Linked DNA regions of Homo sapiens. The protein of the gene in region 1 purifies or fractionates together with the protein of each later gene. This does not show direct contact. Each region holds a gene or a part of one and is shown on either strand. Other genes may lie near its edges. The genes, in order: GNPNAT1 and MSRB2.

Region 1 (3,915 bases):
GTCTTGCTCTGTGGCCCAGACTGGAGTGCAGTCTTGCAATCATGGCTCACAGCAGCCTCTGCCTCCCGGGCTCAGGTTATCCTCCTACCTCAGCCTCCTGAGTAGATGGGACTACAGGCACATGCCACCATGCCTGCCTAATTTTCAGTATTTTTTTTTGTAGAGACAGGTTTTTACCATGTTGCACAGACTGGTCTCAAACTCCTGGGCTCAAGAGATCCACTTGCTTAGGCCTCCCAAAATGTTGGAATTACAGGTGTGAGCCACTACGCCCAGCCATGAGTGTTTATTTTATTTATGCCTTACATATTCTTTTTTTTTTTTTTTTTTTTTTTAGAGACAGGGTCTTGCTCTATTGTCCAGGCTGGATTCAACCTTGTGGGCTCAAGTGATCCTCCTGCCTCAGCCTCTGGAGTAGCTGGGACTACGGATGCATACCACCACATTCTGCTCATGCCCTATATATTCTTTTGTATGTATGGGTGTAAAAACAGAGATAAAAACAGAGATATGGATGCCATCAACTCACTGATGTTTGAAGTTCTGAGAAAGCATAAATCAGTAAAGGAGTTAACTGAAATTTAAATCTCACAAATGAGCAAAAAATATGATTTCTGGTATATGATCTATGGGGTTCTTTGAATACTATTGCTTAAGAATAAAATACTTTGCGATTTCAATAAATTGAAAATTATGGTACAAGGCAAGGAAGGGGAGCTACTAGCTATGAGACTTTTGTAAATTATGTAACATCTCTGAACCTCTGTTTCCTCATCTGTTAAAATAGGGACAAAGTGCTACTTAGGTAAGACACTTCAGAAATGGGGCTCTGAAAAAAGTCACTTTTCTTCTCCTAACGAAAGGTTTCTAAACCTCAGCACTCCAGACATTTCAGGCCAGGTAATTCTTTGTTGTGCGGCGCTGTCCTGCGCACTGTAAGGCGTGAAGCAGTATTCCCGGCCTCTACTCACCTGTGCCCTCCACCATCTGTAGATTCCAATGACATCTCACCCCAGATGAGAGGCTGAAAATGATTCATACATTGCCAAATGTCTCCTGGGAGGCAAAACTGTTGCAGTGGAGAACCGCTGTCCTAACCCCATGTTCATCCAATAAAGGGTTTGAGGGACTGAGAAATGAAACAATAGTCCCGAAGGAGTAGAATGCAGTGGCCCCAACTCCTAGTTTCATGAAGGCAGGAACTGTGACTCAGAGGCCTGGGGATGCGGAGCTCTGAACTGCCAGCTGGTAGGAAAAGTCCTAATTAATGGATTGAATCATGAAGGGAGGGCAACAAGGAACAAATGGAGAGGGCCAGTGGCCGAGCCTTCGGTCTCAGGATCAAAGAGGCCCACACTGGTCACCACTTACGCTGCTGGGCTGACTGCTAGGTAGACGTATCTGCAGATAAACCGAGACAATGACGCGGTGGGAAAGGCCTTGGGGAGCGAGGAGGAGGAGCCGGGAGAGGCCAGCTTTGGTCCGGCGGCCACCGCCCCAGGCGCCGCGACTCGAGCCTCAGGCCCCGCCCCTCGCCCTCCTGGTCCCGCCCCCGCTCTCCGAGCCCCGCCCCTCGCCCTCCTGGTCCCGCCCCCGCTCTCCGGGCCCCGCCCCTCGCTCTCCGGGCCTGGGCGGGTGGCGCCTTGGCCTCCGCCTCCGCTCGCCTGCGCGCGGCCCTGCGTGAGGGGGCAGAGGCGAGGTGGAGGCGTTGGCGCTGCCACGTCTGGGCCGCGGTTCCCAACTGTGGCGCGGGCGGTGGAGGAGGAGGTGGGGCTGGCGCTGAAGCCGGATCCGGATCCGGTGCTGTGCACACTGGTGGGGGAGAGTCCGACGCGCCTGGCTAGGAGCGCCGACCGCAGGGCCTCTACGGGTGAGGAGGGACCGGGGCCGGGGCGCGAGAGCAGGACCGTGTGTCCTGGGGGCTGGGGCGGGCCTGCCCTCAGGTTTATCTAACAGGTGTGTCTGGTGCCCCGGCCAGGCCCCCGGGGGTGTTGTGTGGAGGAGCTGGGCGTTAATCCTCGCCAGCTGGGTGCACATGGTGTGGAGCGCGGTTCCCAGGAAGTTGAACGCACGCGCGCCTGGAGCAGAGGTTAAGGATGATGGCCAGCGGTCCGGCCATACGCTGGTCTTGGCCTGGCAGGGCTGGAACTGGGACTGGGGTCGGAACTTCGCTCCCCAGACTTTGGCGTGGGAAATGAGACAGTTGGTCGCGCTCTCTGCAGCCATCGGTTTTGAATGGGCACGAACGTCCCAGGCCCCTTCTCTTCTCCCATTCCCGGGCGCATCCCACGGTGGTCGGAGCCATTGAGGCAGCTGCTCCGAAGACCACCTCCGCACCGAGTAGGTCGGCGCTTTCCCCAGGGTACAGAGGGACATTCTTTGTCTCTTTTTCCTAGGCTCCTACCCCTAGAAATACCGAGTACTGTACTGTGATTTCTGTTGCGGGAGCTGATGTTTATGTAAGCCAAACTAATTTAAAATTTTCATACAAAATTGAACGGGCGATTATAGGATTCGTTTTGTTAGGATAATCCCTCATGAACGAATCCTAGAATGGATCTTAAGAAATTAATTTAGGCAGGATTTGCTAAATAGGGGAGAGAGCGCTAGCTGTATGGTATGATGATGTAAAGATTGGGGTCTGTTGAGGATGGTAATCGAGCTCAAGATGCGAAAACGAGGATTCTAGCCCCAAGTCACTTACTTGCTGTGTTACCTAAGGGGCAAGTCTTGGGAGTTCCAGGTGCTCCAGCTTCCTCATCGGTAGACTGGGAATAACGCCTAGATTGTAAAGGTCAAACTATCAGAAAATACTTTTGAACATTCATGCAGTTACACAATTTAATAAATATGGCCAGGTGTGTTAAAAATCTTTAACGGAATAGATTCAGAATGGATTCTTGTTATCGAAATTGTTATAAAATGAATATAAAGGAATCCGAAGTCCGCCCCTCCCCCATTCACCTGTACTTAGAAGGTTCCCCAGGAGCTCTTGAGAAATACATAGGCTGGTTTAGATTTGGCCTTAGATTGTATTTTTTAAAATTTGTAGATCGACTTTTAAAATCTTCATCTCCGGTGTCTATTACTTGTTGCTCTCCGTTGGTTGCTTCTAGCAGCAGCCTCTCTCCCCATTCGTATTCCAACCTGATACAGAGGCTCAGACGCCAAATAGTTGAAGTTTTGTTTAAAAAATATTCAATTGAGTGAAAAAATATTCAACTGATGTGATGACTAGTAAAAATGAATTTGGTGTATGCTTTCCGCGATATTGTGGCAGTTTGGGAATTTTTTTTTTTTTTTTTTTTTTTGTCCTTCTGGATTTTCTGAAATGTGACCTACAGGTAAGTCTTATTCGTTATTCATTCACTAGGCATTATTGGGCTAGGGTTAGGCTTAAACGGGTCTTCTAAACGCCTGCTAATTTAGCAGTTAATCAGAAAAGGTTCTGAGGAATACTTAAGGAGGATTAGTGTTTAAAGTTCATCTAAAAACTTTAAAGAACCTAATGATATGATGAGATTCCGCTTCACACAACTGTGCAATTTTATTCGCAGAAATTTCCTAGTTTTGCAATATCTGGGCACCTGAAGATGCTAAAAGATTATTTATATAAAATTACTTATTTAATTATGTTCTAAACCCCCTTGGAACCAGGTTTCAAGTCATATCTTGCTTCACTTTGCCCAGTACCTTAGTTGGGCACCAGCAGAATTTTACGGTTTGAGGACAGAGTGAGCTAAAGTGGGCCTTCAGTATGGCTCTGTTTTGTAGAATAGCTCATAAAAAAATTTTTGATGTTAATTTCTGATTGCCTGGTTAATAGATTCTTATTTCAATCTGTAATGCTTTGTTTAATGTATTTTGACTAGTCTGATTCCCATTTTCCAAATGTAGGTTCTAAGTGCTGCTTAT
Region 2 (3,815 bases), on another chromosome or scaffold:
AGAAAATTAAATAAAAAACAACCCTTGCACAAGCTGACCATGAAGATCCGCTATCACAGGGCCTGGCGGCAGGCACTGTCCCCTCCTATGGGCCAGAGGAAAGCCAGAGCACAGAACAGCTCACCAAGTGACAAAGCTGACTCAGGAAATCTTCAGATCCCTCCAGGCTTCCCAACTCAAAAAATTCACAGTTTAAACATCCAAATTCCCTGTGGTAGTATTAACAGCACATTTGCAGTGAGCTGTATAAAAGACAATTTCAAATTAACCTACTGAGCCTACCATCTGGGTACACTTGGATGTTTTCCTTCTTTAAAACCCTAAACTTAGCTGCAGAAATCCAAACAGTAGTGAGCTGGTCCTTTATGGCCGGTCCCCTCAAATGCCTGCTTCCAACACTGGCACTAGTTAGCAGCTGTGAAGAAGAGGAAGTTGGCCAGGTGTGGTGGCTCATGCCTGTAATCCCAGCACTTTGGGGGGCCGAGACAGGTGGATTACCTGAAGTCAGGAGTTCAAGACCAGCCTGGCCAACATGATGAAACCCCATCTCTACTAAAAATGCAAAAAAATGCCAGGCATGGTGGAGCACGCCTGTAATCCCAGCTATTCAGGAGGCTGAGGCAGAAGAATTGCTTGAACCTGGGAGGCAGAGGTTGCAGTGAGCCGAGATTGTGCCACTGCACTCCAGCCTGGGCGACAGAGCCAGACTCCATCTCAAAAAAAAAAAAAAAAAAGAGGAAGTTTCCCATCCTTCCCACCTGGGCTGAAGATGAATGCATGCAAAACAGGACTGCCAGTCCTAAGGCTGATCTAGAAAAGCCTTTTCATAGGATCCAGACAGCCTGGAAAGACTCAAAACATAATTTCATTATTGCAGGGGGGCAGCTGGACAGAGGAAGTGATAGATAACTGCTATCACAGTAAGCAAAATAAAAATTAAAACATCAGTGAAGGCCAGGTGCGGTGGCTCATGCCTGTAATCCCAGCACTTTGGGAGGCCAAGGCGGGTGGATCACCTGAGGTCAGGAATTCAAGACCAGCCTGGCCAACATGGTGAAACCCCATCTCTACTAAAAATCAAAATATTAGCCGGGTGTAGTGGCAGGCACCTGTAATCCCAGCTACTCGGGAGGCTGAGGCAGAATCGCTTGAACCCAGGAGGTAGAGGTTGCAGTGGGTCAAGATTGCACCATTGCACTCTAGCCTGGGCAACAAGAGCAAAACCCCATCTCAAGAAAAAAAAAAAAAAAATCAATGAAAAGGAATACTCAGCCAACATAGTTTCTGAAATGACATCTACCCACTCTCTCCTTGCCTAGCTTCCTGATGTTTCCCTCCCTCTCCAATTTTATACAAGTCCTGTAACTTATTTAGGGTTAAACTCAGCTTCTATCTCATTTCTAGTATTGACATGATAATCTAATATAAACCCAGGCTGAGCTGGGTGCTAGTGTTGCAGAGGTGGGCAGCAAAACAGTTTCTGCACTCAAAGAATTTGCTCCCTAAGTGGGAGGAAGACACACGTGAGCTGACAATTTATACCATGTGGTGACAGCTATGATAGAGATGGCATGGAGTTCGGGTAGCGCTGTACCCTTCACTACGAAGGGGGGAGTTTCCACAAAGGCTGACTGTATCAGATATTATCTGAGATGGGAGGAAGTCTTTTTATTTCTTAACCTTTTATTATTATTCTAAATTGCACAACTGATGGTTGTTTATTATAGAAAAATGCCAACACTAAGCTGACTTTTGAAGAGTAAGAGTTAATTGAATGAGGAAATGGAAGAGTATTTCTGGCAGGCAGAATACCTTGGTCAAGGCCCACATGAAAGAAGAGGGCAAAGAGGAGGATGGAGAGAGATGATGCCGGAAGGCAGGTGAGACCAGGCCAGATGGGGTTGGTTAGATCACGACAAACAGCTTAAACTGTGTCCTACTGGAAATTTGAAGCTACTGGAAACTTGTGAACTGGGTGTACGCCTGATTGGAGTTGGTTTTTAGAAAGATCGCTTGACATTCAGGTAAAGAATGAGCTGGAATGGGGCAAGATGCCACCAGAGGCAGAGGGCAATCCGACCTCCATCACACATGCAGGCCTGGAGTGTGCTCCTGCTCAGGCAGAGCAGTGGAAATAAAAGAAAGAGAAGAGATTCAAGAATACTTAGAAGAGAGAATTGAAATGCCTGGCTGCACAGGGAGGGGCCAGGGTCAGAGAGAGAATGATGTTCAAGATTCCCCTGGGATTGCAAGGTCTGCTGGACCAATGGCAGTTCACCATTCCATCTTGTCAATACAACGCACCTGCTGGAAACAGATGACACACTCAAGAGGGATGACTGCAGATAACCTCACACAGGACTGTTTACAAAGGTGCAGACGGGGCCAATGGAAATCCACAAGTGAGGGCAACGCATCCCTGGGCTAATGACTCTGAGAAGCCATGGCCTCCACTAGGCCTGTGGGACAAAGGAAGAGGGAGTGGCCAGAACCTGGTGAGGCTGCACCTGCAGGGGAGGGCTGCCTACAAGAGGGGCCACCTGCAGTACAGGAACACAGCCACTGCCATCCTGCAGCCCCACAGAGAGAACGCTGGGCTCTAGCGATTTCTCCATCCCACCTTTTGATCTCACTGTTGTCTCCCACTGGCTAAACTGAATCAATAGCTGGGGGAAAGGGAGCTGCTCACTCTTCCTAGAGCTCAGAGCAGGGGAGCCCGCGGAGAGTGGATCTGGAGAGTAGACAGAGAATGACCTGCACAAAACCTCCCTTCTATTGATACTTGACTTTCAGTTATTGCTCAGCCATCCTGTAAATTTATTCGTTGGTCTAGCAGAGTGCTAGCACATTACCGTTGCCCAAGAAAAAACATGCGGGAGGGAATTTTAATTTAGAGTCACCAAAGAGAAGCCTTCGATGTTTTATTTCTCTTCTCTTAGGTGAACAAAGCTAATGAAGGCTTACATTTCTGCAATACTCTAAAAAGTTAAACGTGGAAATGGATCCATGGAAAGGGATTTATAACATTAGTTAAAATAATGAATGATGCTCATTTTGTCAAATGGCCAAATGCAGAGAGTATATTGCACCATCTGTTTGAGAAGCCCACAGATTTATTTTCCTAAACATCTGGCAGCTCATCTCTAGGGTCTGTCTATGTACCAAGCCCTGCCTGGCTCTGTACCTGAGAATTAGGGTTGGCTTAGAATACTCTGGGAATACATACAACTGCTCACAGAGTATCATGTGGTTCCCTTGTGCAGTCTACACAAATGGCTAATGTAGTCTCTTTCCCAACAAGGGCTTTAGTAAAATCCCGCCTACAGGAAGTTTTCAAAAATACCAGCATTTCAGGGGACTTTATTGGAATGTGCTGGCCCTTCTGATGACTTTAGCATTGGAAAAACTGAGGGTGAGACCATGATTACAATGGCAGTGCATGTGGGTAGTGACATGAGTTTTGCAGGTGCTGACAAAGGAAAAAACATTCATACTCTACTATGTTTGAAGCCACAGGGCTGGGGTCCACTCTGTGGGATCTGCTTCACTAGTAAAAATATCTAATAACAAAGTTCAATTCAAAAAAGCTACATTCCAGTAGCTATATTTGGGTCTAAGACAGACCACTTGTTAAGCAACGCGGCACTATGTTCTCATTTATATGTGAGAGCTAAAGAATTTGAACACATGGAGGTAGAGAGTGGAAAAATGGATAACAGAGCCTGGAAAGGGGGTTTCCTACCCTGGAAAGCAGGGGGTAGGGGGAGGATGAAGAGGAGTGGCTTAAAGTCCACAAACATACAGTAAGAGAAAAG

What was found.
Region 2: the proteins of GNPNAT1 (region 1) and MSRB2 purify together in Homo sapiens (affinity purification with mass spectrometry; one large-scale study listed by BioGRID and IntAct). This does not show direct contact.

The regions. Positions count from the first base shown.
Region 1 is NC_000014.9:52,789,383-52,793,297, reverse strand, and holds the start of GNPNAT1 (glucosamine 6-phosphate N-acetyltransferase), read left to right. Parts: upstream 1-1,690; 5' UTR 1,691-1,870; exon of another isoform or gene 1,871-2,340; intron 2,341-3,915.
Region 2 is NC_000010.11:23,105,395-23,109,209, reverse strand, and holds part of MSRB2 (methionine-R-sulfoxide reductase B2, mitochondrial precursor), read right to left. Parts: intron 1-3,815. UniProt on the Homo sapiens protein: Methionine-sulfoxide reductase that specifically reduces methionine (R)-sulfoxide back to methionine.